Homo sapiens: one gene and its partners. The protein of the gene in region 2 interacts with the protein of the main gene of each other region in a pairwise test. Each region holds a gene or a part of one and is shown on either strand. Other genes may lie near its edges. The genes, in order: CDA, ADAT3, SORBS3 and FBLIM1.

The links.
Region 1: the proteins of ADAT3 (region 2) and CDA interact in binary tests that used the Homo sapiens proteins (3 or more experiments, as listed by UniProt).
Region 3: the proteins of ADAT3 (region 2) and SORBS3 interact in binary tests that used the Homo sapiens proteins (3 or more experiments, as listed by UniProt).
Region 4: the proteins of ADAT3 (region 2) and FBLIM1 interact in binary tests that used the Homo sapiens proteins (3 or more experiments, as listed by UniProt).

The regions. Positions count from the first base shown.
Region 1 is NC_000001.11:20,599,097-20,606,096, reverse strand, and holds part of CDA (cytidine deaminase), read right to left. Parts: intron 1,170-7,000; coding exon 1,058-1,169; intron 1-1,057. UniProt on the Homo sapiens protein: This enzyme scavenges exogenous and endogenous cytidine and 2'-deoxycytidine for UMP synthesis.
Region 2 is NC_000019.10:1,908,380-1,913,965, forward strand, and holds the end of ADAT3 (probable inactive tRNA-specific adenosine deaminase-like protein 3), read left to right. Parts: intron 1-3,510; 5' UTR 3,511-3,668; coding exon 3,669-4,772; 3' UTR 4,773-5,068; downstream 5,069-5,586.
Region 3 is NC_000008.11:22,568,915-22,575,951, reverse strand, and holds the end of SORBS3 (vinexin), read right to left. Parts: intron 6,805-7,037; coding exon 6,679-6,804; intron 5,043-6,678; coding exon 4,731-5,042; intron 4,235-4,730; coding exon 4,131-4,234; intron 3,613-4,130; coding exon 3,506-3,612; intron 1,286-3,505; coding exon 1,224-1,285; 3' UTR 164-1,223; downstream 1-163. UniProt on the Homo sapiens protein: Vinexin alpha isoform promotes up-regulation of actin stress fiber formation. Vinexin beta isoform plays a role in cell spreading and enhances the activation of JNK/SAPK in response to EGF stimulation by using its third SH3 domain.
Region 4 is NC_000001.11:15,761,766-15,768,802, reverse strand, and holds part of FBLIM1 (filamin-binding LIM protein 1), read right to left. Parts: intron 4,311-7,037; exon of another isoform or gene 4,308-4,310; 5' UTR 4,118-4,307; intron 3,840-4,117; 5' UTR 3,820-3,839; coding exon 3,570-3,819; intron 1,428-3,569; coding exon 1,240-1,427; intron 276-1,239; coding exon 173-275; intron 1-172. UniProt on the Homo sapiens protein: Serves as an anchoring site for cell-ECM adhesion proteins and filamin-containing actin filaments. Is implicated in cell shape modulation (spreading) and motility.

The DNA of each region.
Region 1 (7,000 bases), on a different chromosome or scaffold from region 2:
CTTTACTTACTCAGAAACAAATTAAGCTGGGTCTCCTTGGGGCCAGACTGAGGCAAAGTGTAGGATCTTATAAAAGGCACGTGGGCTTGCTTCTGTGCAGTCCCCACTGGCCTTGCACTAAACCCAGCTTTCAGTATTCCTTTTTTGTTATTCAAACAATACAGAACCTATAAGTAAGCCAAGAGAATCCAATGGTACAACACTGTGATAATTACTTGCCGGTGAAGACCTTTCCAAACTGTTCTCAATGCTTTTTTGTTTTGTGTTGTTTTTGAGACAGGGTCTCACTCTGTCCCCCAGGCTGGAGTGCAATGGCATAATCATGGCTCATTCCAGCCTCGAACTCCCAGGCTCAAGTGATCCTCCTGCCTCAGCCTCCCAAATAGCTGGGACTATGGGCATGCCACCATCAGCAAAAAAAAATTTTTTTTTTTTTTGAGACGGAGTCTTGCTCTGTCGCCCAGGCTGGAGTGCAGTGGCGCCATCTCGGCTCACTGCAAGCTCTGCCTCCCAGGTTCACACCATTCTCCTGCCTCAGCCTCCCAAGTAGCTGGGACTACAAGCATCCGCCACCACGCTCAGCTAATTTTTTTGTATTTTTAGTAGAGACGGGGTTTCACTGTGTTAGCCAGGATGGTTTCGATCTCCTGACCTCGTGATCTGCCCATCTTGGCCTCCCAAAGTGCTGGGATTACAGGCGTGAGCCACCGCGCCTGGCTCAGGTTCCCCCCGCTTTATGTTTCAATGCTGCCTTTCTGTTATATCTTGTAGGACAGGAGTCTGTATCACGTTGTGTTGCTGGAACAGGGGCATACTGGCCCTTGTATGAGAGTTGCCTTGCTTATTTACCTGCTTTGCAGGCTCACTGAGGGCAAACTCCATTTCTTATTTATCTCCTTATCCTCAGCACTCATCCCAGGGCCCTGTACAGTGCCTGGCACATAGGAAGTCCACAATAAACATATGTCAGATGAATGAATGAATGAATAATATGTGTAAGGAAGATGTTGGCTAAAGAGATGAATGAATATTGTTGCAACCTGGCTTTCCCACTCACCTGGCGATAGCAATTGCCCTGAAATCCTTGTACCCTTCTGAGACGGCCTTCTGGATAGCGGTCCGTTCAGCACAGATGCCCAGCGGGTAGCAGGCATTTTCTATGTTGCACCCTGAGAAGAGAGCAGAGTCCAGTGGTATGTCTGGCAGAGACACTTCCTGTTGCGTGTGTTGAGTAAGAAGTTTGCCCCATTCCAAAGCAGGAAGGAACTGGTTACTCCAAACAAGGTGGGGAGAAGGACAGGGCAATTAGGGCAATTCGACCTGGGGCACTGGTAGATTCTTTGGCCCATGGTAGTGGCCCTTCCCAAGAACCTGGCACTGTCTTAATTTACCCAATGCCTCCATGATGAAGCACAGCCTGGGAGCAGGGCAGCACAACAGGCAGATTAGGCAGCTCCATCACCCCTGCAGAGGTCAAGGCCAGGGTAGATCCCGAGGCTTACAAAAATAAGTAGAGCCCCCACACCTGCATCTAAGAGATCTAAGAGCCCCATGGTCTGAATGTGTCCCATCAAATTCATATGTTGAAATCCTAGCCCCCAAAGTGATGGTATTAGGAAGTGGGGCCTTTGGAGGAATGATTAGATAATGAGAATGGAATGAAGGGGACCAAGCCTAGGAATGGGAGTCATGCACTTATAAAACCAGAGAACTGCCTTGCCCCATCTGCCGCATGAGGACATAGCAAGGAGTCACCGTCTATGACTAAGCAGGCCCTCACTGAATCTGCCAGTGCCTTGAACCCTGGACTTTCCAGTCTCCAGAACTGTGAGCAATACATTTCTGTTATTTACAAGCTACCCAGTCTATGGTATTCTGTTATAGCAGCCTGAATGGACTAAGACAGATCCTGATTCCAAGTTTGAGCCTGGACAAAATTTTGGGGGTTAGGTACTGGCTGTCAGAGTTCAGCCAGGGTTCTGTGTCAGTTGTGTTGCAAAACAAACACACTGTCAAAACCAACTAACAACGAAATCAATTAACAAACAAACAAAAAAAACACCTCGAGCTTTGTGCGAGTTGCCTGTGATTTCACAAGACTTAAAACAATCCTCGGGCCTCCAGTGGGATGTGGGCTCCTAAGATGGCCCAGCTCTCAGTAAGGGAGTCCTTCCTGTTGGCTCTCTCAGGGTTGTTGCTGGGGGACAATAAGCCAAGGCTGCTCCTAGGAGGCAAGATGTTGGCATAACCAGATTGGCTAAGAAAGTCCCCATATTCAGGGAAGTGAGTCTACGAACAAATCACTATGGGAGCTGGGTTTTCCCCTGACCAGCAAGATGTGGTATTCCATCTGTATCACTGTTTGTAAATTGCCTTTTTCCCTGAGGCGGAGATAGGAGTTGTTCCCCAGTATTCATTTCCTATTTCTTCCTTTAAGTAATACAAGTGCCTCCCATTCCAGCATGGCCGCTCAGCTAGGGACTGTAATTCCCAGACTCCCTTGCAGCACAGTGTGGCCACATGATGCAGTTCTGGCCAATGGGATGTGGCCCAAGGTGATGTGGGAAATTTCTGGATCATACTTTTGGTAAGGAGGTTGCTTGCCTGTTACTTCCATTCTTTTCTCCTTCCACAGACTGGAAGGTGGAGGTGATGGGGTGGGACACTTTTGACTGCGTGGCCAAGGGAATGGAGGAGCAGCAAGGAGAGAGAAGGAATTTGGAAACCTGGTCAACTCATGGGGCAGAGTTGCCCGTTTGCCTGGGGCCTACTCTGAATTGTTGTGTGAGAGAAAAAGAGAATTCCACCATGTTTATATCACTGCATCTTGGAATCTGTTTGTTATAGTAGCATAACCTATGTCTAATACAGACATTTGTGCTGAAGGTGAGATGCAACTTGAACAAAAAAAATCTAAAGTATGTGACATTGGCTTAGTGGTTGAGCAACGCAAAGGAGAAAACACAGATGAGGCAAGATGGCCAGATGGTGACTCCTCCTAGTCTGTTATTTGGTAAAGCTCCACCTGCAATAACCAGGAAGGCAGGCCGTGGTACCCACCACTGAAATTTCTCTCCCTGGCAATGGGAATCAGCCCTGTGGCAAAGATGTGATGTGTCATCTGCCCACACAGCCTGTTGTTTCAGGCACCACAATAGCCAGCATTAAGATGGGGCAGCAGGAATGGGCCAGGCATGGGAGCCAGTTAGGAAAATGCCAGAGTTGGCAGGCTTCAGAACCATGTCCAGAAGGGATCTCTGGGTGTGGCATTTCTGTATGGAAATAATTGGAAGCAAATAGATCAGGATGTTTCCAACTTTTGATAGAATTGGATCGCCAAAGAAGCCACAAGCCTGGCCTATAAAAACACATGATGAGGCTGGGCATGGTGGCTCAAGCCTATAATCCCAGCACTTTGGGAGGCCAAAGCGGGCGGATCACAAGGTCAGGAGTTTGAGATCAGCCTGGCCAATATGGTGAAACCCTGTCTACTAAAAATACAAAAATTAGCCTGGCATGGTGGCAGCCACCTGTAGTCCCAGCTACTCAGTAGTCTGAGGCAGAAGAATTGCTTGAACCTGGGAGGCAGAGGTTGCAGTGAGCCGAGATCATGCCACTGCGCTCCAGCCTGGGCGACAGAGTGAGACTCCATTTCAAAACACAACGAAAAAAAAAAAACCATGATGTGGGTGTGATGATGTGTGTCAGTTTGAACATGCAGATGAGGACACAACTCTAGGGATGGTGGGACATCTAGACAGAAGGAATCTGGTCTCCAGGACAACTTTGCAGGACAGAGAAACACATCTCCTATGCTGTGGACTCCAGCCCGCCCCTGGTCTGTTAGATGAGGGAAATAAGCCACCACATCTTGTTTGAGTCACTGTATACTTATTGATTTCATCAACTTAGCCTTCCCTCCCCTCCCCTCCCCTCCCCTCCCCTCCTTTCTCCTCCTCTCCCCTCTCCTTTCTTTTTGACAGGATCTTACTCTGTTGCCCAGGCTGGTGTGCAGTGGCATGATCATAGCTCACTGTAACCTCAAAGTCTTGGGCTCCACTGATCTTCTCATCCTAACCTACCAAGTAGTTGGTACCACAGGTATACATCACCACACCTGGCTAATTTTTTGTATTTTTTTGTAGAGATGGGGTTGCCCAGGCCAGTCTCAAACTCTTGGGCTCAAGTGATCCACCTACCTTGGCCTCTCAAGGTGCTGGGATTATAGGTGTGAGCCACGGTGCCCAGCCTACACCTCCTTTTATAAGTCCAAGTCTTCATTGTGATTATGCAGTATTTTGTTCCGTGTTGATCACATTTGGGAATTATTTGGTCATTATCTTCTTGTATATTTTTCCTCACATATTTTCTGGTCCCTTCATTATTTACATTGGCATGTTAGGAGTGATTAGTCATTTAACTCGTTCTCAGGATCGCAGGCATTCATGTCCAGAGTTGACGGATGTCATTAGACACTACTGGGTGCCACAGCTGCAGGTCCCTTGTCAGGGTGAGGGTGAATGTGGTCACAGTGGTGCATGGGATGGCTGTATGGTGTTAGATGGGGGCTGGTTTGGAATTCTACTTTGGGGAAGAAAACAGGCTTGTATACTGAGCACCAAAGGGTAGACTATAGTGAGCATCTACTGTTTTGACAACTTAACACCTCTTACATTTTTTCCCCTGAGGAATGACTCTTACTTTATTCCCCAGCATGTAGTTCAAATGGGAGCTGCCATCTTGTCTCCTATGACCTTGCTATGGGCATAAAGATGAACACCTGACTCAAACTGGCCAATCAGAGTTCATCTCTGTGTGGGAACTTCAGTTTCTCTCTTGAGACACTGAGTGTGGGCCGCCATGTTTCCATTCATTATGGAAGAGACCAATGAGAGAGGCTGAAATGGACACTCAGAAGAATGGATGAGAGAAGAGAGATGGAAAGAAAGGAGTCTGGCCAGTGCCAGTTGCCCCTGAGGTCTGGCTACACTCCAGGTCTTCCCACGGTTTAGTTATAGGAATCCATACATCCTCCTTTTGTCTAAAATAGTTCATGTGTATTTTTATCATTTGAAACCATACAGAGATCAGTTAATACAGTTGGAATATGGGGCAGGGTACAATCAGGAAGTTGCAACCCTGAGAGCTTTTGTTTATTTAAATGTTAGTTATTATAGCTGAGATAACTGGCCCCTTATTGCTCAGTCTCTCTGCTGAGTCAATGAAAGTTGAATGTATAAATGAATAATGCCTCTTGCTCCCCACCTTGTCTCCCCAGCCAGGTTCCTGATCCTCACCTGAAATGACTTTCTTTTTCTTCTCTTTTCTTTTTTTTTTTTTTTTGAGACAGAGTCTCACTCTGTCATGCAGGTTGGAGTGTAGTGGCACAATCTCAGCTCACTGCAATCTCCACCTCCTGGGTTCAAGTGATTCTCATCTCAGCCTCCCTAATAGCTGGGATTACAGGTGTGCATCACCATGCCTGGCTAATTTTTTAATTTTTAGTGAAGATGGGGTTTCACCATGTTGTTCAGGCTGGTCTTGAACTCCTGACCTCAAGTGATCCGCCCAGCTCGGCCTCCCAAAATCTTGGGATTACAGGTGTGAGCTAAGATGCCCAGCCCCTGAAAATGACTTTCTTTAAACACCACTCTCACCTGCCATATCTGCTCACCACTCCCACCTTCACTGACATCCCTACACTTGGTTTCTGCCTCTCTCCCAGATTACAGTCCCTGCCAGCCTCACTCCCAGCCTAGTGACTCTCCCAGCCCCGCCCTTCCAGCTTCCCTGCCCGATCCCTGACTAAAGTCTGACACTTTTCCCATCAAAAGTGATGCATGCAGATCTTGGGTTTTGCTGACATGCCGTTAAAGCACATTTCCACACTTGCAGAAGACCCAGTCTCTCAGGATGGTCACATGTGTCTGCTCTGGAAGTTCAGAAAGGCCTCAGAGACAGAAATCTTCCTTTACTTTGTGTAAAACATGTAATAGGCCAGTTAATGAGAAAGAAAGATGGTTGTGGCAGGGGGCACACTCACATGCCCCACTACTCAAACAGCACCCTGTAGAAAGAGGTTCCATTAGGTTTCATTCTGCCCTGGGACTCTTTGCCCAACTGGCTCTGAGAATTGGGGAAAGGGACTGAACCTCTTTGAGGCTCACTGGCTTCATTTGTAAATCGCTAATGATAGAATCTCCCTCATAGTCCTGTTGTGAGAATAAATTGAGATCACTCGTGTAAAGCACTTAACACAAAGCCTGGCACAGAGGAAATGGTCGGCAGCTGTTAGCTGCTGCTGTTATCAATTGCATAAAAATCAAGGCTTTGGTGGCAGTAGGGCTATGTGACCCTCTGCACCTTCTCAACAAGGTATGACAGTGGTCCTGTCCCTGTCCTTCAGGCACTTTGAAATCCTTTATTTTTATTTTATTTTATTTTGTTTTATTTTATTTTATTTTATTTTATTTTATTTTGGAGACGGAGTCTTGCTCTGTCGCCCAGGCTGGAGTGCAGTGGCGTAATTTCGGCTCACTGCAACCTCTGCCTCCTGGGTTCAGGCGATTCTCCTGCCTCAGCCTCCCAAGTAGGTAGGACTACAGGTGCGTGCCACCACGCCCGGCTAATTTTTGTATTTTTGGTAGAGATGGGGTTTCACCATATTGGTCAGGCTGGTCTTGAACTCCTGACCTTGTGATCCACCCGCCTCAGCCTCCCAAAGTGCTGGGATTACAGGTGTGAGCCACCACGCCTGGCCTGAAATCCTTCTTATGACTACAAGGTCATATGTGATCTGGTGCCAAGGTCATATGTGATCTGGTGCTACCTCTTGGCTCGCATCTCCTTTTGTTCTCTAGACCTGTTGTCCTTCCAGCTGCTCCCCTCAGGGCACCAGTATGCTCCTGCCACAGGGCCTTTGCACAAGCTGTTCCCATTGCCTGGAACTCTCTTTCCCTTTTGCGCACTATTCACCCTACTCAGGGCTCTGCTCAAATGT
Region 2 (5,586 bases):
TCTGTGGGGCGCCCCGGCGGCTGAGGCGTGGACCAGGCAGTGCATGTCGAGGAGTAGCACCCACAGCTGCGCGGCTGCGAAATGATCCAGAGACACATCCCTGTCTGCGGGAGGAGCCGTCCATACCAGCGGGGATGTGTAGTCCAGGCTGGCAGTTCAGGATCACCCGGCTGGAGTCATTTTAAGATCATCTGCGGCTTAGCCCCAGCACCATCTGAGGCAGTACTGTCTGCTAGAAATAACTGTGAGCACACAGGTAGTAAGGTTTTTAGGATTTTATTATTATTTATTTATTTGAAAAAAGGAACAGGGTCTCTCTATCTTGCCCACGTTGGTCTCAAACTCCTGTGCTTAAGTGATCCTCTCGCCTTGGTCTCCTGAGTAGCTGGGACTACATGTGCACACCACCGTGCCCAACTAATTTATACTTTTAAGCAATGTGGGCTGGGCACGGTGGCTCACACCTGTAATCCCAGCACTTTGGGAGGCTGAGGCAGGTGGATCACCTGAGGTCAGGAGTTCCAAGACCAGCCTGGCCAACATGGTGGAACCCCGTCTCTACTGAAAATACAAAAATTAGCCGGGCGTGGTGGCATGTGCCTGTATTCCCAGCTACTAGGGGGGCTGAGGCAGGAGAATCGCTTGAACCTGGGAAGTGGAGGTTGCAGTGAGCTGAGATCATGCCACTGCACTCCAGCCTGGGCAACAGAGTGAGACTCTGTCTGAAAAAAAAAAAAATGTGGGCTGGGCATGGTGGCTTACGCCTGTAATCCAACCTCAGGCCTGCGGTGCGAGTCTGTGGGGGCAGATGCAGGTGGGGGAAGGCTGGCCAGCTGAGACTGTGGTTTGGGGGTGTTCAGGTGGGGTGGATGCCAGAGATGTGGGAGCCAGAGGCGCTGTCCCCCAGGGCCCTGTGAGCAGTCCCTGCAGGCTGGCTGTCCCCACGCCTGCCTCTCTGCTGTGCTGTCTGCCCGCCTAGGGCAGGCTCCCTTCTAATGGGCGGATCCCGAGAGCTGGGGGCCCCACCAGCCCTTCCTCTCCAGTGGAGTGGCCCTACTGCCTCATGTCCACCTGTGCCAGCAGCAGGGATGGTAATGGCTCTACTATCTCCTGTCCTCACCTGTGCCAGCAGCAGGGATGGTAACGGCTTTACTGCCTCCCGTCCTCACCTGTGCCAGTGGCTGGGATGTCTTCACCTGTGCCAGCAGCAGGGATGTCCTCACCTGTGCCAGCGGCAGGGATGGTAACAGTGCTGGTGATGTCAGGCCGGGAGGTTCTCACCCGAGAGCCGCCTTGGCACACTGCCCGGCAGTCAGGGATGTTAGCAGGAGCCCCGGGAGTGATCCCAGCTCTTCCCGCAGCCCCACTCCAGCCAGGGCCTCCTCTGTGACTGAGTAAGCAGGGACACCCCAGTGGCTGCCTGCTCCACCCGACAGCCAGGGCCCACCACAGCTGCAGGAATGTGGTCAAGGGATGGGAAGTCGGGCCCACCAGGGGAGGGGCTGCGCTCCGGGGCTTACGTTTCGTGGCTTGTCTTCTGAGGTCTCTCTTTTCCTAGCCCTTGGCCGACTAGGGGGCGAGTGTTTACAGAAACCACTGGAGGTGGGTGTTCCGTGTCAGTGCCAGGCTGTGTGCTGTTCTGGGAGGGGGCCCCGTGTCCCCCACACTTGGCATGCTTGCTTTCTGTCACTGCATAGCAGACTCCGTGCATCTGTGGGCTTAATACAACACCCGCCAGCTCCCGGTTCTGTGGGTCGGGGCCTGAATGTGACATGGCTGGCTCCTCTCTGCGGGGTCTCACCGGGCTGGAACCCAGGTGTCAGCCAGGGCTGTGTTGTCATCTGGAGGCTCAACGGGGGTGGCATCTGCTTGCAACTCACGCAGGCGTTGGCGGAATTCAGCAGCTTGCGGCCGGGGGACCAAGGGTCCTGCTCAGTTCCTGGCCACATGGCCCTTCTGTCTGGAAGCCAGGCGCCGCCTGTCCCCGCTTCTGCTTCCAGGCTCTGGCTTCTGGAGATGCAGAGATCACATCAGTGGTTGCCTGGGTTGCTGTGTGTGTTGTAGGGTGGTGAGACAAGTTTTCTCTTAGGGGTGATGGAATGTTCTGGAATTTTATAGTGGTGATGGTTGCACAACTCCAAGTGTCCTAAGAGCCACTGAATAGGACACTTGATAGTTTTTGGTTTTTGAGGTGTCTTTTTTTTTTTTTTTTTTTTGAGACAGAGTCTCGCTCTGTCACCAGGCTGGAGTGCAGTGGCACGATCTCGGCTCACTGCAACCTCTGCCTCCCAGGTTCAAGCAATTCTCTTGCCTCAGCTTCCTGAGTAGCTGGGATTACAGGTGCGTGGCACCATGCCCAGCTAATTTTTGTATTTTTAGTAGAGATGGGGTTTCACCATGTTGGTCAGGCTGGTCTCGATCTCGTGGCCTCATGATCTGCCCGCCTCAGCCTCCCAAAGTGCTGGGATTACAGGCTTAAGCCACCACGCCTGGCTTTTTTGTTGTTTTTTGACAGTCTCGCGCTGTTACCAGGCTGGAGTGCAGTGGCGCGATCTCGGCTCAATGTAACCTGCGCCTCCCAGGTTCAACCTTCTGGGTTCTCCTGCAAGCCTCAGCCTCCCTAGTAGCTGGGACTACAGGTGCGTGCCACCAGGCCTGGCCAATTCTTTGTATTTTTAGTAGAGACGGGGTTTCACCGTGTTAGCCAGGATGGTCTTGATCTCCTGACCTTGTGATCCGCCTGCCTCGGCCTCCCAAAGTGCTAGGATTACAGGCGTGAGCCACCGTGCCCGGGTTTTCATTTTTTTTTTGAGATGGCATCTTGCTCTGTCAGCCAGGCTGGGGTACAGTGGCACGATTGTAGCTCACTGCAGCCTTGAATTTCCGGCCTCAAGTGCTCCTCCTGTTTCAGCTTCTCGAGTAGCTGAAACCACCGGTGTGTGCCACCACGCCCAGCTAATTTTTTGATATTTAGTAGAAATGGGGTGTTGTTATGTTGCCTAGGCTGGTCTTAAACTCCTGGGCTCAAGTGATCCCCCCACCTCGGCCTCCCATAGTGCTGGGATTACAGGCGTGAGCCGCTGGTACCTAGCCATGAATTGTGCTTTTGAAAATGACCTGTCTTGGCTGGGCGCAGTGACTCACACCTGTAATCCCACCACCAGGTTGAAGCGGGTGGATCACGTGAGGTTAGGAGTTCGAGACCAGCCTGAACGACGTGGTGAAATCCCATCTCTACTAAAAATACACAAAAATTAGTCGGGCGTGGTGGCGCATGCCTGTAATCCCAGTTACTCTGGAGGCTGAGGCATGAGAATAGCTTGAACCCGGGAGGCGGAGGTTGCAGTGAGCTGAGATCATGCCACTGTACTCCAGCCTGGGCGACAGCGAGACTCCGTCTCAGAAGTAAAAAAATAAAATAAAAAAAAAAGAAAATGATCTGTCTTCTGGTAGGTGAATTATATCTTCGTTTTTAAAAACCAATGGCTGTTTAAACTCTGTGCACACCAGGGGTTAGCAGGACATGAGGGAGTGTAGCTCTGATGCGGTGACCTGGGCCGGAGCCCTCGGACTAGCCTCAGCTTTGGTGGCAGCACGCCCTGCCTTGTGGAGCCACGGCCTCCCGGGACGGACTCCCCGGCTCTCCCCCAGCCGCCCGCAGCCGCCGGATGATCCTCTGCTCCCGTCTCTGTCTCCCACAGTCGGCCTCGCTGAGGATGGAGCCCGCCCCGGGCCTCGTGGAGCAGCCCAAGTGCTTGGAGGCCGGGAGCCCGGAGCCTGAGCCGGCGCCGTGGCAGGCCCTCCCTGTCCTGTCCGAGAAGCAGTCAGGGGACGTGGAGCTGGTGCTGGCCTACGCCGCGCCCGTCCTGGACAAGCGCCAGACCTCACGCCTCCTGAAGGAGGTGTCGGCCCTGCACCCGCTCCCCGCCCAGCCTCACCTCAAGCGGGTGCGGCCCAGCCGCGATGCCGGCAGCCCCCACGCCCTGGAGATGCTGCTTTGCCTGGCTGGGCCGGCCTCGGGCCCGCGCTCGCTGGCTGAGCTCCTGCCACGGCCGGCTGTGGACCCCCGCGGCCTGGGGCAACCCTTCCTGGTGCCCGTGCCCGCCCGGCCGCCTCTGACCAGGGGCCAGTTCGAGGAGGCCCGGGCCCACTGGCCCACGTCCTTCCACGAGGACAAGCAGGTGACCAGCGCCCTGGCTGGGCGGCTCTTCTCCACGCAGGAGCGCGCCGCCATGCAGAGCCACATGGAGCGGGCGGTGTGGGCGGCCCGGCGGGCAGCAGCGCGGGGCTTGCGGGCCGTGGGGGCCGTGGTAGTGGACCCGGCCTCGGACCGCGTGCTGGCCACCGGCCACGACTGCAGCTGCGCGGACAACCCCCTCCTGCACGCCGTCATGGTGTGCGTGGACCTCGTGGCGCGCGGCCAGGGCCGCGGCACCTACGACTTCAGACCCTTCCCCGCCTGCTCCTTCGCCCCGGCCGCTGCCCCCCAGGCCGTCCGCGCAGGCGCCGTGCGTAAACTGGACGCAGACGAGGACGGCCTCCCCTACCTGTGCACTGGCTACGACCTGTACGTGACCCGCGAGCCCTGCGCCATGTGCGCCATGGCCCTGGTGCACGCACGCATCCTGCGCGTCTTCTACGGTGCGCCCTCGCCCGACGGCGCCCTGGGCACCCGCTTCCGCATCCACGCACGGCCCGACCTCAACCACCGCTTCCAGGTGTTCCGCGGGGTGCTGGAGGAGCAGTGCCGCTGGCTGGACCCCGACACGTAGGCGCCGCCCTCCTGCCTCCGGACCCTTCCCGCTCCCGGCCGTGGGGCGCCCCTCCTGGACTTCCGGGCCTCGATTTCTTCCGCACAAGCCTGACCGTGGATTTCAGGGACACATACCGCCTCCAGCGGGGAGCACGGGTGCTGCCTTCCGTGCGGATCGAGCTTTCCTGGACTCGGTCATTGGGGCCACCCCGTGCCAGCGGTGCCCTTCTGCGGCCGCCCTTGCTGCGTTTGTGTCCCCTCTGTCTCGCGGGCCGGGAAACTGCTCTGATGGGAAAATAAACAGCCCAAAACCAAGTGGGTGTCTGTTAGGAGGTGTGTGCCTTTGTGGCCAGGGTCCCGAGTGGGGTGGGGTCTGTACAGGGCCTGGTGGCTCAGCCGGAGGGGACCTGCTGAGCCACGTGTGGTCAGAGACCTGGGCTGATTCTGGGGTAGAGCAAGGCCCCCAGCTGCTGCCTCCTTTCCCGCTTCTGGAGTCCTGATGGTTCCAGGCGTGCCTGGCCCAAGTGTGTGGACACTAGGCGTAGTCCACAGGGCACCGACCCTAAGGAAGGGCCCTGGGATTTCGTGTCCTTCACAAGTGGCAACAGGGGACCCCAAAGGGCTGATGCTAGTCGGTCACAGCACAGTGAGGACTAGAGCCGTTTTTGCAGAACTTGGAGCAGGACCTGTGGGTCCACCCGGCAAGTGTCCATTGCCTGACCATGTGGGTGCAGCTTTGCCTCCAGACACGCCTGCTGTGAGCCCCCAGCCCATAGGGGAGGGGATCCGGCAGGTGGGGGCTCTGCGTGGGGAGCTCATGCAGTGGACAGAAC
Region 3 (7,037 bases), on a different chromosome or scaffold from region 2:
GCCCAAAGAGGAGAATAAACACACACACACACACACACACACACACACAAGGGCTTCGGTGTGGAAACAGAGCACACAGAAGGAAAACAGCAGAATAGTTAGAAATGTCATCTAGCCCAGCAACCCCACGGTGGCAGCTCCAGAATCAAAACAGTCTGCAAACAAGGCCACATTCAGTCCCCCATCTCTGGTGTCTCCCTGCTACCAGGGCCTGGCACTGTTCATTCTCCCAGCACTTCTTGCCACACAGCTGCCCAATTGTGGGGGCTGCCGCAACCTGCCTGACACCCAAGGGCAGAGATCTTTGGAGGTAATAATGGTGTTTTTCCATCCTCCTCCTCTTACACACACACCTGTCCCACCTGTCTCCCAGCACAGCCCTCCACAGAAGGAATTCCCATCTCCTAGACAGGAGGAGGCATCCCCTACCCCAAGGAAAAGGCCGCAGAGACAAGGTCCCTTGTGTCCAGGTTTATTTTACATTCTCTTCCAGAGGGGATGTGGGGCTGGGGGAGAGCCAGCAGGCAGGCGGGCAGCACACAGCAGTCTCCCTGGGGAATATTTGAGCCAGGCTAGTGGTGCCTGGCCCCACAGTGCGGGGTGATATGCCAGGGCCAGGGCCAGGACTTGGCAGCCCCTGGGAAGAGGAGGCCTTGGGGCCAGAGCTCTTGCCAGGCCTAGATCGCTAAGAAGGTGCTGCGTCTGTCCCCCGCCTTGCTCCGCCCCCCCACACCCAGCTGGAGGCCAGAAGGCAAAGAGGGCAGCCAGCAAGCTGGGGTGCTGGGAGGAACCCCAGCAGGCGGGGGCGGCCTTTGGTCTCTACGAGGCTAGGAAGCTGGTTCTGGTTAGAGGAACCCCGTGGGGGCAAAGCGGAGAGCTGGTCCCTGTTAGAGGAAACGCTGGAGCAGGATGGGGGTGGGGGACTTGGGGTCTGGTCTCAATAAGGCCTGGAAATGGTCTCCGCTTCAAAGCAGACCTCTGTATTTGGGGAGTGGGGTGGGGAGGAAATGAAAGGGCTGTGGGAGGAATGCCTGTGAGTCGTGGGTGGGAATCAGTCCAGGGGGCTTCGAGGGGGGTCCGAGGGAAAGGCTGCGGGGGTCGTCTGCAGATGCTGGGAGCTCAGGTCCTGGGGAAGGAGGATGTGGGCGGGGGTCCTCTCCCTCCCACGAGTGCCACCGCTCCCCACCCCATCCTGGCTGGCTCCAAGTTGCCATGGAGACCACTCACACCGGGGCAACGTAATTTCCAGGGAACGTTCCGAATTTCTGGGTCCTCCGGGAGACACCTGAAAGAGGAAAGGCAGGAAGAGCTTTCCCCACTCCCTTCTTTAACAGGGATGCAGGGGTGAGGGCCTGCCCCCTGCCGGCAGTGCCCAGAACTGTAGGGGAGTTCTGTAGGGGAGCCCAGAGAGGGAATTGGATTTGCTCTCCTCCTTCCTGCCCCCTAGCGGCAGAAGCTTAGATGGGCAAAGCTACACTTCCCACACTCAACCACCAAAGAATCTGAGCAATCAACAAATGTGCATCACACTGTACACAGCAGAGTCACTCCCCCCCTCCTCCGCAAAGTGGGGACACAGGAGGAGGAATCACAGAACTGAAATCGGGAGAAACGTCCCTGGTCTAATAGGGCACCCTCACTTAGAGATGGGTGGGAAGGCCTATGGGAAGGCTGAATGCATTGCCCGAGAGCACCCCGACGCTTAGGAGTAAGCTTGGGACTCCGATCCAGGCCTCTCAGCCCCACAGAAACTCGTGTCTTGAAGAGGAGGAGGGGGGGGAACCCCAGCGGGCAAAGCATCTGGGGGGCCTGGCACCCGATGCTTCCCCAAAGCCAGCACTTCTGTTGGCTGCTTTCCTTCGTGCCATGAAGAGAAGGACGCCCTGGAGGAAACTGGCACCACCCCAGGGTCACTGATGGAGTCACTGGGGACCCAGGCCGGGGTTGCCGACCTTCAGAGCCCTGCCCCTTTTCCCTGCACACCCCTGCCTCTGGAGCAGCCCTTGGGGAGAGCGCCTGGTGGAAAGGACCAGGGCTCACACCTGTGTATCCCCACACCCCCCAGCTGGTTCCTCCAGCCTGGGAGGAAGAGGGAATGGAGAAATATAGAAATACAGAAATGTAATAAATATTATTATATTCCTATATATAGAAAAATAGGAATATAAACTGAAATGAACGTCACTCCTGACCTTGGGTGAATGGATGATCCTGGGCCTCCCCTTCCAGGCTGGCACCCTGACTTCCTTGGGGGCAGCCCGTGCTCGTCCCACCCCCACCCTCGTCCTCTGCCCCGAGTACCTCCCTTTCCTCTTGGCCTCCCCAAATCCTTCCCCTGCCCTTCCAGGCCCAGCTCCCTCATTTCCTCCAGGAAGCCTTCCCTGACCTGCACTAACTAAAATGGGCACCACTCGCCACCTGTGGCTGTTGGGCACTTGAGATGTGCCTGTGCAACTGAGGAACTGGATTTTTAATTTATTTCATTTGAGCTACATTTCAACAGCTGAATGCCGCCGGTGGCTGCCATACCGGAAAGGGCACAGGTCTCGCCCATTCCTCTCAAAGCGCTTGTGGCTCCTAATACAAAAGTGGTACTTTTTCTTCTTGTCTGCATAGGTTTGCAAAACTTTATTAGTAGTTGTAAAAAAATTCCAAAGCAAAAGTGTATCCAGTAAATTTGAATGCATCTCCAAGCACCGCCTCCCTCCCTCCCCCACTAGAAGGTAGGGGCCATTCACAGGCTAGTGCTTAATGGTCCTGGGTGGGTCAGTACAGCTGGCTGGCAGCTGTACTGGGATCAGATCAGGAAGGGTGGGCTGCCAGGTCAAGGGGCTGCCCAAGCAGCCCCCCAACTCCTCAGGCTTCAAAGCCTGCTTGGGGCAGGGCAGGGGGCTTCTGGCCACTCTCTTCTCTCTGGGGACGGCCCATCCTTTGAAGATGAGACCTGCACAGGGCCCGCCCACTCTGGGGAAAGAGGCCATGTGAAGCCTGGTGGGTTGGTCACCTTGATTCAGGCTGAGGCCAACCTGAGGCTTCCTGCATTTGTCCTTGGTCAGAGCTGCCCTTGGGCCAGCCCTGAGGGGCTGGGACCTTTCTCCATTCCCTCTTCCTCCCAGGCTGGAGGAGCCAGCTAGGTCAAGTGTGAGCCCTGGTCCTTTCCACCAGGAGCTCTCCCCCAGGGCTGCTCGAGGCAGGGGTGTGCAGGAGGAAGAGGCAGAGCTCTGGACGTTGGGAACCCTGGCCTGGGTCCCCACTGACTCCATCAGTGACCCTGGACTGGTGCCAGTTTCCTCCTGGGCCTTGGCCTCTTCATGAAGGAAGGCAGCCAACAGAAGGGCTGGCTTTGGGGAAGCATCGGGTGCCAGGCCCCCCCAGTAGCCCGGCCGGAAGCTGAGTCGGGGGGTGGTCGGCCATGAATCTTTGCTGAAGCAGCACTGGCAGGCAACAGCACCCCACCCACATCCCCTGGGGCCCTGAGATGCCCCCTCCCGGCCTGCCCACATACCCACAAACCAGCCATCGTCACACTGCTGCATGACATCCACCCTGTCCCCCTCGCGCAGCTCCAGCTCGTCTTCGTTCTGGGGCCTGTACTGGTACATCGCCCGGTACCTGCGAGAAGCGTATCATGGCAACCAGAGAATGGGCCCAGAGGCTCTAACCCAAGTGTTGCCGCTTCCTGTGAATGCCCCAGGGTCCCTTCATGCTCTCACTAGCCCCTGATCCAGCTCCTCAGAGCAACTCAGCCTGTGCTCACCGTAGTCTTTCCCAGGCCTGCCTCCTGCCCTCTGGGCCCTAAGCACTGAACCCTCGCCTCCTCTGAGCACCTGGTGCCTTCCTGTCCATTCCACCAGTTCCACACTTCAATTATACATGCACCGACCTCAGGGCTAGAAACCCAATGAGGAGACCAAGGCCACAAGGCCACATAGCTGCCAGGAGGGATTGGGAACATCACAGACCAGCGCCTCCTCCCTGCCCCAAATCACCATAAGCTCTTCGAGGACAAGGGCTACCTGGTAGAAGTTTCCCAAATCCACAGGTGGGGACTTGGGGGAGGGTGGAATATGGGGCATTGCCTGCCAGTGACCCCCCCCACGTCTGATCAAGAGCCCTCAGATGGTACTCACGGGGTCCAGTGTATCTGAGAGGTGTTAGGAGAGGAGGTCCCCAGGTCCAGGGGATGGCTGGGACCTCGAGAGTGGGACAGAGCTGGACCAGGGGTGCCAAGATTCTGGGAGTTGACAGGAAGAAAGGGATGTCAGAGGGAGGAAGACGATGGGTACATGTAAGCCTGAGGGAGGAGGCCCAAAATGGGCGTTCCCAGTCCACCTGCCAGCACGCCTTACAAACGGCTTCATCTTAGCCTCCAAACCCCCAGGGCACAGGGACACCTGCTGTGACTATTTCATTTCACAGGGGCCAGAAAACTGAGGCCCAAGTAAGGTCAGTGCCTGGGTTTCTGGACGCCAGCATGGATGAACCAAGAACACCCAGGGTCAGGAGCCTGGGCCGGCTTTGGGATTCCATCTAGAGCTCCCTCGGCTAGAGCTCGGTAGGTTGAGGTCCCCCAGGCCAGGGTGGGGCTGCCATACTAGCTTCTGCCCTGTCACCCCACTCCTATGTCCCAGGGCTGTCTGGGAAGGAGTCCCAAGTGTGGACAAGTCACGGGGGTGGGGGATGAGGGGTGAGGAGGAGGTCGACTCTCTGGTGGAGGCAGGCTACCTCACCTGGGTCTGGGGTCTAGGCTCCTGGGTGGGGAAGGAGAAGCCAGTGCGACGGGGGGAGGTCTGTCCCCCCAAGTCGATGGGGTCAGCTGGGCTGCGCAGGGCTGAGGGGGAGCTGGGGTGACGGGCTGAGCGGGCGGCAGCGGTCAGGCGGGGAGACGTGGGGAGCTGGGGGCCGTCGTCACAGAGCCGGAGCCGGGGTTCACGAGACACCTGCACGTAGCTGGCAGGGAATATGCCTTGGCGCCCCGTGCCCGTGATGCGTCCCTCGTACCAGTTCTCGTTCACCTTGCGGATCAGGCAGATGTGCTCTCCCTGAGGGGGGAAAAGTCAGTGTCTGTGGGGCCTTCCTGGTGCCATGGACCCACGGGTGCCTTATCTGGGCTGTCTCATTCAACCCTAACACCTTGGACACACGAGGGGTCGGAATCGCAGGGGGCCAGCAGTTTACCCGAGTCACACGGTAAGAGCAGGAGCCAGGAGCCAAGCCCAGGCTGCCCAGGCAAGGCTGAGGCTGAGACTGGGTCCTGCCTCTTGGAAGCTCAACGGGTGTGCATCCCCCTTCGGCGTTCATAGCAAGGTCCCTCCCCAGAGCTCCGATCACAGGTGAGCCCGTGGCTAATAATACAGATCCAAACCCAGCTCCACCAGGCCAAGCTGTGTGGCCTCAGGCAGCCTGCTCTGTCTCTCTGAGCCTTGTTTTCTCCTATGTTAAGTGAAAATAACCATACTGTCACTATGAGGTGTGAACGAGATCAACAGTCCACTCCTTAGACACACTGGACAGGTGCTACCACTACTGCCCTGCCTGGGTCCTGTTCCTGCCTCACGCTGGGGGACCTTGTCATGAGCGTGTCAAAAACACACTCCCCAGGACAGGCAGGGAGTCCTGAAGGCCACAGGCTGGCTGACATTAGGTAGAACCACCCCCTGGGAGGGTGGCCTCCAGCCCTTGCCTTCCCCTGTCCTCTCCTGCCCCCATCTGTCTCCATCCAGCCACCTTCTTCCCCCTCTGTCCCTGGGGCCAGCTCTTCTGGGAGGCATTCACTATGGGCCGTCTTTCGCTTATTTTGGGAGCATGATCACTGCTCCCAAAATCAACCAAAGGCAGACCACTTCCCTGCTTTCTAGAACAGCATTTTTCAAACTTGTTTCACCACAATCTACAGTTAAAAATGTTTTAATAACAGCCCAGAATACATATATATGTGCATACACAGAACTGCCTACGGTATGATAAAGTGCTTTCTGCTCGCAACGCATGCTAACATTTCTGTCTATACCTTTAAAAATGCTGAGTATGATCCCCTGCAACCTGCAGTTGAAAAAATATATATGTAACTCTAGAAGTTTATGATGATCTTTTAAAAATGGACCAAAATTACTTGGGAGGCTGGGGCAGGGACAGGGGATCGCTTGAGCCCAGGAGTTCAAGGTCAGCCCGGGCAACATAGTGAGATGCTGTCTCAAAAAAAAGCAAAAAAAAGCCACTACACTAAAGGAAGCATAATGAAAGAGACTGGGGAAAACTTTGAAATCCTGGGTGAAGCTAGGTACATCGGACTCTTTTTTAAAGAAGTGTTTTTAGGCCAGGCGCGGTGGCTCACGCCTGTAATCCCAACACTTTAGGAGGCTGAGGCGGGTGGATTATGAGGTCAAGAGACTGAGACCATCCTGGCCAACATCGTGAAACCCTGTCTCTACTAAAAATACAAAAATTAGCTGGGTGTTGTGGCGCGTGCCTGTAGTCCCAGCTACTCGGGAAGCTGAGGCAGGAGAATTGCTTGAACCCGGGAGGCGGAGGTTGCAGTGAGCCGAGATGGCACCACTGCGCTACAGCCTGGCGATAGAGTGAGACTCTGTCTCAAAAAAAAAAAACTGTTTTTAGTGCACATATTTACCTACATCTTCACCTGCCCCCACCCACCCCTCCGTCTCCGGCCTGGCCCACCTTGCGGAAGGACAGCTCCACCTCCAGGTCCCCCTTGAAGGTGTACTGGGCCACAGCCTCTCCATACTCCAGCACCTGGTAGGTCGGGGGCTTGATGGGCTTAGGGATCTCATCTGCGGGCAGCACCTGCATGAAGAAAGGTCATGAGAAAGATTTGGCCTGGGCATCAACATAGCACAGGCTGGGGGTTCCTGTGAGACAGCAAAGAGAAGGTGGGCCCGCCCCTAGGCAGAGAAAAGATATAAACACCAGACACAAGCCCTGGGGGCAGCCACGGGTGGGCACAGCCAAAGGGTGCTGGAGGATGGGGAGGAGTCTGGGAACGCTCCCTGGAAGAAGAATTTTCCATAGGGATATAT
Region 4 (7,037 bases), on a different chromosome or scaffold from region 2:
AAAAGGCTAAAGCAATACAAATTAAATGGATGCCGAACTACAAAGCCCATCATTGTTAACATGAGCTGGGGTGGGGATGGGAAGAGGGGTCCTCACTCTCTTGGTTTCTACCTGGAAGCCCATGCTGGCCCCATGAGATCACCCCAGTATCCTCTCAGCCCTGTGCACCTACCTGTGGATGCCCCTTTCTCAACAGGTTCTGCCGGGGGAGGTGGCAGCTCTTCCTCCATGGGCCTGAGGGGACCGGGCTGGACTGAAGGTCCCTCCGCTGGGGCCTGTGGGGATGCAGACGGGGAGTCATCCAGTGGGACCCCATGCAGCCCTCCCAGCTCTGTTCCTCATCTGGGTGGTAACAGGTACAATTAGCCGCATTGTACCGAGAAGGAAACCAAGGCCCAGGGAAGCAAGGGACCTGCGTAAGTCTCTCAGCAGGAAGGTCACAGTGGCAGCTGACTGGGGTCCCTCAATCAGCCACTGCTCCTTGTCCTACTTAGAAGGACTCTCCTGCAACCAGGCTTCCCCATGGATGCTGGACTGAAGTGGACTAAGCCCTTGGCCTGTGACGCCCCCCATTTCTACACAGCCTCTGTTAAGGGCCCAGGGTTAAAAAACAGGTTCCTGGCCAGGTGCAGTGGCTCAAACCTGTAATTCCAGCACTTTGGGAGGCCGAGCCATGCGGATCACGTGAGGTAAGTAGTCTGAGACCAGCCTGACCAACATGGTGAAACCCTGTCTCTATAAAAGCACAATAAATTAGCCAGGCATGGTGTGGGTGCCTGTAATCCCAGATACTCAGGAGACTATGGCAGGAGAATCGCTTGAACCTGGGAGGTGGAGGCTACAGTGAGCCAAGATCATGCCATTGCACTCCAGCCTGGGTGACAGAGCGAGACTCCATCTCAAAAACAAACAAACAAACAAAAATCCAGGTTTCCTATGCAGCCTAAGGGATTTAGGTCGGACTCAGGGAAACGTCTTCCTCAGAGCTGAAGGAGGTGTCTGCGGCAGGTGCAGCAGCGAGGCAGTGGCATCCCTCTCCAGGGACCCTGAAACACTTAACCAATTTTTACCTGCCTAAATAGGGACTTCTGAGAGCTTCAAAGAGGGACTGCCCCCGAGCAGAAGAATGCACCAGACAAAGTCCAGGTTTAGAACCCCTGAATGCCCAGAAGGCCCAGACTCCCCGTGCCCCAACCAAGGGGACCAAGGGATTGCTGGGGGTCGGGGGGCAGGCAGTACCTGTGGTGGGGGCGGGGGCGGGGACAGGTGCAGCTGCTCTAAGTCTGCAATGAGTGAGGCCCCCATTGGAGCAGGAGCCTCCTCTTCAGAAGGCAGAAGCACTGGAGGGGGCGGTGGAGGGGGTGGGAGGAGGTCCAGGTCAGGAAGCACGTCCTCACCATCCAGGACAGGAGGAGGGGGTGGGCATCCTGCAATGGGGGAGGAGAGAGGGCTGGTCAGAGCCTCCCAGGTGGACCTGGGAGGGTTTTACTTACCTACATGGCCATACAGAGGGAAGCTGAGGGCCCCGGTCGGGATCACCCCGGCCTGGGTTCCATGTCTAACTCTGCCACTGATTTGCTGTGTGTCCTTAGGCAAGAAACTTAATCTCAGGCCAGGCACGGTGGCTCATGCCTATAATCTCAGCACTTTGGGAGGCCGAGGTAGGCAGTTCGCTTGAACCCAGAAGTTCAAGAGCAGCCTGGGCAACATAGTGAGACCTCAACTCTACTAAAAATTAAAAAAAATGTAGCCAGGCATGGCAGCACAAGCCTGTAGTCCTAGCTACTTGGGAGGCTGACGTGGAAGGATCACTTAAGCCCAAGAGGTTGAGGCTGCAGTGAGCTTAGATCACATTACTGCACTCCAGCCTGGGTGACAGAGCCAGAACCTGTCTCAAAAAAAAAAAAAAAAGCCGGGTGCAGTGGCTCACACCTGTAATCCCAGCACTTTGGGGGACTGAGGCAGGCAGATCACCTGAGGTTGGAAGTTTGAGACCAGCCTGACCAACATGGAGAAACCCCATCTCTACGAAAAACACAAAATTAGCTGGGCGTGGTGGGCATGCCTGTAATCCCAGCTACTTAGGAGGCTGAGGCAGGATATTCACTTGAACCCAGGAGGCGGAGGTTGCAGTGAGCTGAGATTGCGCCACTGCACTCCAGCCCGGGCAACAAAAGCAAAACTCCATCTAAAAAAAAAAAAATTAGGCTGGGCGCGGTGGCTCACGCCTGTAATCCCAGCACTTTGGGAGGCTGAGGCGGGCAGATCACCTGAGGTCAGGAATTTGAGACCAGCCTGGCAACCCTGGTGAAACCCTGTCTCTACTAAAAATACAAAAATCAGCTGGGTGTGATGGTGGGCGCCTGTAATCCTAGCTACTTGGGAGGCTGAGGCAGGAGAACTGCTTGAACCTGGGGAGCAGAGGTTGCAGTGAGCCGAGATCGCACCACTGCACTCCTGCTTGGGTGACAGAGCGAGACTTCGTCTCAAAATATACACACACACACACATACACACACACACACAAATTAGCTGGGCCTGGTGGTGAGAGCTTGTGGTCCCAGCTCCTTGGGAGGCTGAGGTGGGAGGATTGCTTGAGCCAGGGAGGTTGAGGCTACAGTGAGCCGTGATCACACCACTGCACTGCACTGCACTGCAGCTTGGGTGACAGAATAAGACCCTGTCTCGAAAAAAAAAAATGCAAATTCTCAGGCTCCACGGCAGATCTGCTGAATCAGAGATACTTGGGGTGGGAGCCTGCGGCTGTGCTGGAATGGACCCAGTGACTGTGTTGGTACAGGCCCGGGTGATGCTGCTGCTGACTCAGCGGAAGTGAGAGAAAGAGGCTCCGATGAGCTCACGGAGTCAGGAACCAGGTCTTGGAGAGGCAGTAAGAGTGCTGTGGCCTCTCCCAGTGCCTGCCTCCCGGTGCAGGGCCCATAGGCTATGATGGGCGGGCAGGAATTCAAGAGAGAAGCAGGGGGACCCGAGGCCACAGGGCAGGTGGGCAGAAAGGGGGTCCTGGACCCGCTCGAGGATGACTCTGAGAGGACAAGTACTAAGCAGATGGCAGATGGCAGCCTTCGGTGTAGACGGCTTCAAGCAGCTGGCAGCATCCCCAGGGCCCGGGGCCAGCCTTTGTGTCCTGCAGTCAGACCAGGCGCATGACCAAGCTGGTCACCTAAAACTTATCTCACTTCAGGGAGACTGAACCCCAAGATCCCCGTGCTCTGCTTGAGGGTATTAAATTGGCAGACGAAACGGCCAGCCAGCCATGCTGACCAGTGACAGGACAGCCCTTCCCAGGCAAGTTTGATCTTGTTCCCACACTCCCAAGATCCTCTTCCCATAATCCCAATAACCCATGAAAATGTCCCGGAAATTCTGACATCTAGCCTCTATTTCCCGGGCTCCCTTGCCCACCCAGAAGGGGCACATCTTTTTGTTTCCCGTTGATGTGTGAATTTTGTCAGGATGAATAATGAATGAATGAATGACGCTGGAGCCTGCCCTTTCCTCCCCACCTCTGCCTCTGACGTGGTCTTCCCCAAAGTCCCCTCAGCTCTTACCTCCATTGAAGAGCTGCATAGGTGCAGCCGGCACTGTGGCTGCAGCTCTGCCAGGGGTTGTCCAGGGGCTGGGCCTCCCCGCCAAGCCAGCCTCGGGTGTCTTCATGGGGGCAGGAGCCTCCCAGGGGCGGCCACGCCGGGCCTCACAAACTGCCTGCCTCACTTCCTCCGCCACGGCCACATCGCGGCGCGGGGGTGCCAGGGTGATAAAGACAGACGATGCCACCCTCTTCTCAGGCTTTGAGGCCATGGCTTCAGCTCCTGGTGTGGCTAGGGACAGAGTGGGGTACAGCACAGGATTGCCACCCAGACACACAGCCACCCTCCCCCGAGAGGAGAGAGCCTCCCTCCTCCCAAAAAGACAGGCCAGCCACCCTACCATCTCAACAACTCAGTCCAGCACCCAGCCCAGCCAGAGAAGGGGTGGGGGTGTCCTGCTGGGGAAGACAGGACCCACCAGGGAACTTGGCCACAGGGGTGAGACCCAAAAGTCCTGACTGCCCCTCCCCCGAACCTGCACACCTAGGGGAGCAAAGGGCAGCCCTCACCAATGATCACTCTTCCTTGTCTCACACCCGCGAGGAAGGAACAGATGCTTCAGCTCCCAGCCCCAGCAGGGCTGACTTCCGTTCCCAGTCTGGAGTCCCGCCTGCCTGCTGGGCCACACCCCAAGTGACCTCCCTCACCTGGGATCAGATTCTCCTAGAAGGGCTGAAGTCCTGGAGGTTCAGGCCAGCTCTGCTTTGGGAGGGAAAGAGAACAGATCAGGATCTGCCAGGGCGTCAGGGCTAGGCTCCGGCGGCAGAGTGGGCAGGGCACAGTGAGAGCTGCCCTCACCAAGACCGGCTCTGCCCTGAGCATGTTATACTCATTAACTCATAAACACTCACACGTTATGCTCATTAACTCATAAACACTCACAAGGTGGCTGCAGGGCAGGCACTATCATCACCCACCTAACACATCAAGAAATCGAGACTCAGAGAGAAGTCACCTGTCCAGGGTCACACGGTGGTGAGGTGGCACTGGAACCCAGAGCCCATGCTCTTGGCCACTTTGCTCTGCTCTGACCTTTCTCAGCCCTGCACATGAGCCAGCACCCTCCTTGCTTGCTTTCTAGTGCCAGACTCTCTCACTCCACCCAATCTCCAAAACCTGGGTCCTGGTTCAGGCCTGGGCAGTGGGCAGGGGGCAAGGGGAGAGATGGGGAGGCTCCATGGCCTCTGGTCTCACCTCCTAACCCTGATCTTTCTAGAGCATCAATCTCTTTCTCCTTTACTCAAAAACCTTCCATGGGCCGGGCATGGTGGCTCACAGCTGTAATCCCAGCATTTTGGGAGGCCGAGGCAGGTGGATCACTTGAGGCCAGGAGTTTGAGACCACCCTGCCAACATGGTGAAACCCCATCTCTACTAAAAATACAAAAATTAGCCATGCGTGGTGGTGGGCACCTGTAATCCCAGCTACTTGGGAGGGTGAGGCAGGAGAATCGCTTGAACCTGGGAGGCCGAGGTTGTGGTGAGCCAAGATTGCACCACTGCCCTCCAGTCTGGGCAACAGAGCGAGACTCTGTCTTTTTTTATTTATTTTTATTTTTTGAGACGGAATCTTGCTCTGTTGCCCAGGCCGGAGTGCAGTGGCACGATCTTGGCTCACTGCAAGCTCCACTTCCCAGGTTCACGCCATTCTCCTGCCTCAGCCTCCCGAGTAGCTGGGACTACAGGTGCCCGCCACCACGCCCGGCTAATTTTGTTTTTGTATTTTTAGTAGTGATGGGGTTTCACCATGTTAACCAGGATGGTCTTGATCTCCTGACCTCGTGATCCGCCCACCTCAGCCTCCCAAAGTGCTGGGATTACAGGCGTGAGCCATCGCACCCCGGTGAGACTCTGTCCCAGCACTTTGGGAGGCAGAGGCAGGTGGATCACCTGAGGTCTGGAGTTCGAGACCAGCCTGGCCAACATGGTAAAACCCCATCTCTACTAAAAATACAAAAATTAGCTGGGTGTGCTGGCGGGCGCCTGTAATCCCAGCTACTTGGGAGGCTGAGGCAGGAGAATCACTTGAACCCGTGGGAGTGGAGGTTGCAGTGAGGTGAGATGGCACCATTGCACTCTAGCCTGGGCAACAAGAGCGAAACTCTGTCTAAAAAAAAAAAAAGAAAAAAAGTATGGCTCTCCACCACCTCAGGATGAAGTCCAACTGCGGCAGCCTCAGCCTCTTTGAGCCCCTGGACCACTCGCCCTTCCTATGTCCTCTCTCTTGCCTTGCAGTGTTTCTTCTATGGTTTTCCTGTCCTGCCCCCACAGGGTGAATTTCAGCTTTCTCTTAGAGGCCCAGCTCAAACATCACCTCTTCCACAAGGCACCCCCCGATTCCTGGCCCTCTCCAGGGGCAGTTTCCTGCTGCCAAGGGTGGACGAAAGCGATGATAGCCCCAGGGCAGGACAGGCTGGCTCACAAGCTCACTATCAATGCGTCTGACCGGTGTCTGCATTCTTTGTGTGCCTAGAGGATATCAGAGCGCAGGCATCAAAACCCAGATCTGGCCACCCGATGGCTCACGCCTGTAATCACAGCACTTTGGGAGGTAGGCGATCACTTGAGGTCAGGAGTTCAAGACCATCCTGGCCAACATGGTGAAACACTGTCTCTACTAAAAATACAAAAATTTGGCCTGGCGTGGAGGCTTATGCCTGTAATCTTAGCATTTTTGGAGGGCAAGGTGGTTGGATCACGAGGTAAGGAGTTCAAGACCAGCCTGGCCAAGATGGTGAAACCCTGTCTCTACTAAAAATACAAAAATTAGCTGGGCATGGTGGCAGACGCCTGTTATCTCAGCTACTCGGGAGGCTGAGACAGAGAATTGCTTGAACCCGGGAGGCGGAGGTTGCAGTAAGCCGAGATTGCACCACCACACTCCAGCCTGGGCAACAGAGCAAGAGTCTGTCTCAAAAAAAAAAAAAAAAAAAAACAAATTAGCCAGAAATGGTGGCATGCACCTGTAGTCCCCAGCTACTTAGGAGGCTGAGGCAGGAGAATCGCTTGAATCCTGGGAGGCGAGGTTGCAGTGAGCTGAGATTGTGCCACTGCACTCCAGCCGAGGTGACAGAGTGAAACTCTGTCTCGAAAAAAAAAAAAAGAAAAGCATAAATCAGAGAGCATGGTGGCACCCTGATACCCTGATGTCAGGAAAAGGACATTATTTCCCATCTCTCAGGTAGTTCCTGCTGACAGTAGTCCCTGTGGCCAAGGCTGAGGTGGGGCCATGGGTGGGAAAGCTGGGAGTCCAGTGAGCACATCAGTCCTCAGCAGGCACCCAATGCCTGTGCCCAGGGCTAAAAATGTCCCCTTTTCTATCTCGCTCTTCAGGCTTCCCTCCTTATCTCAAAGTGCACTGGCCACTTTGGGTTCACAGCGACTGATGGATGATAATAAAAACAATAACACGTGCTCCTAAATTCCCTTA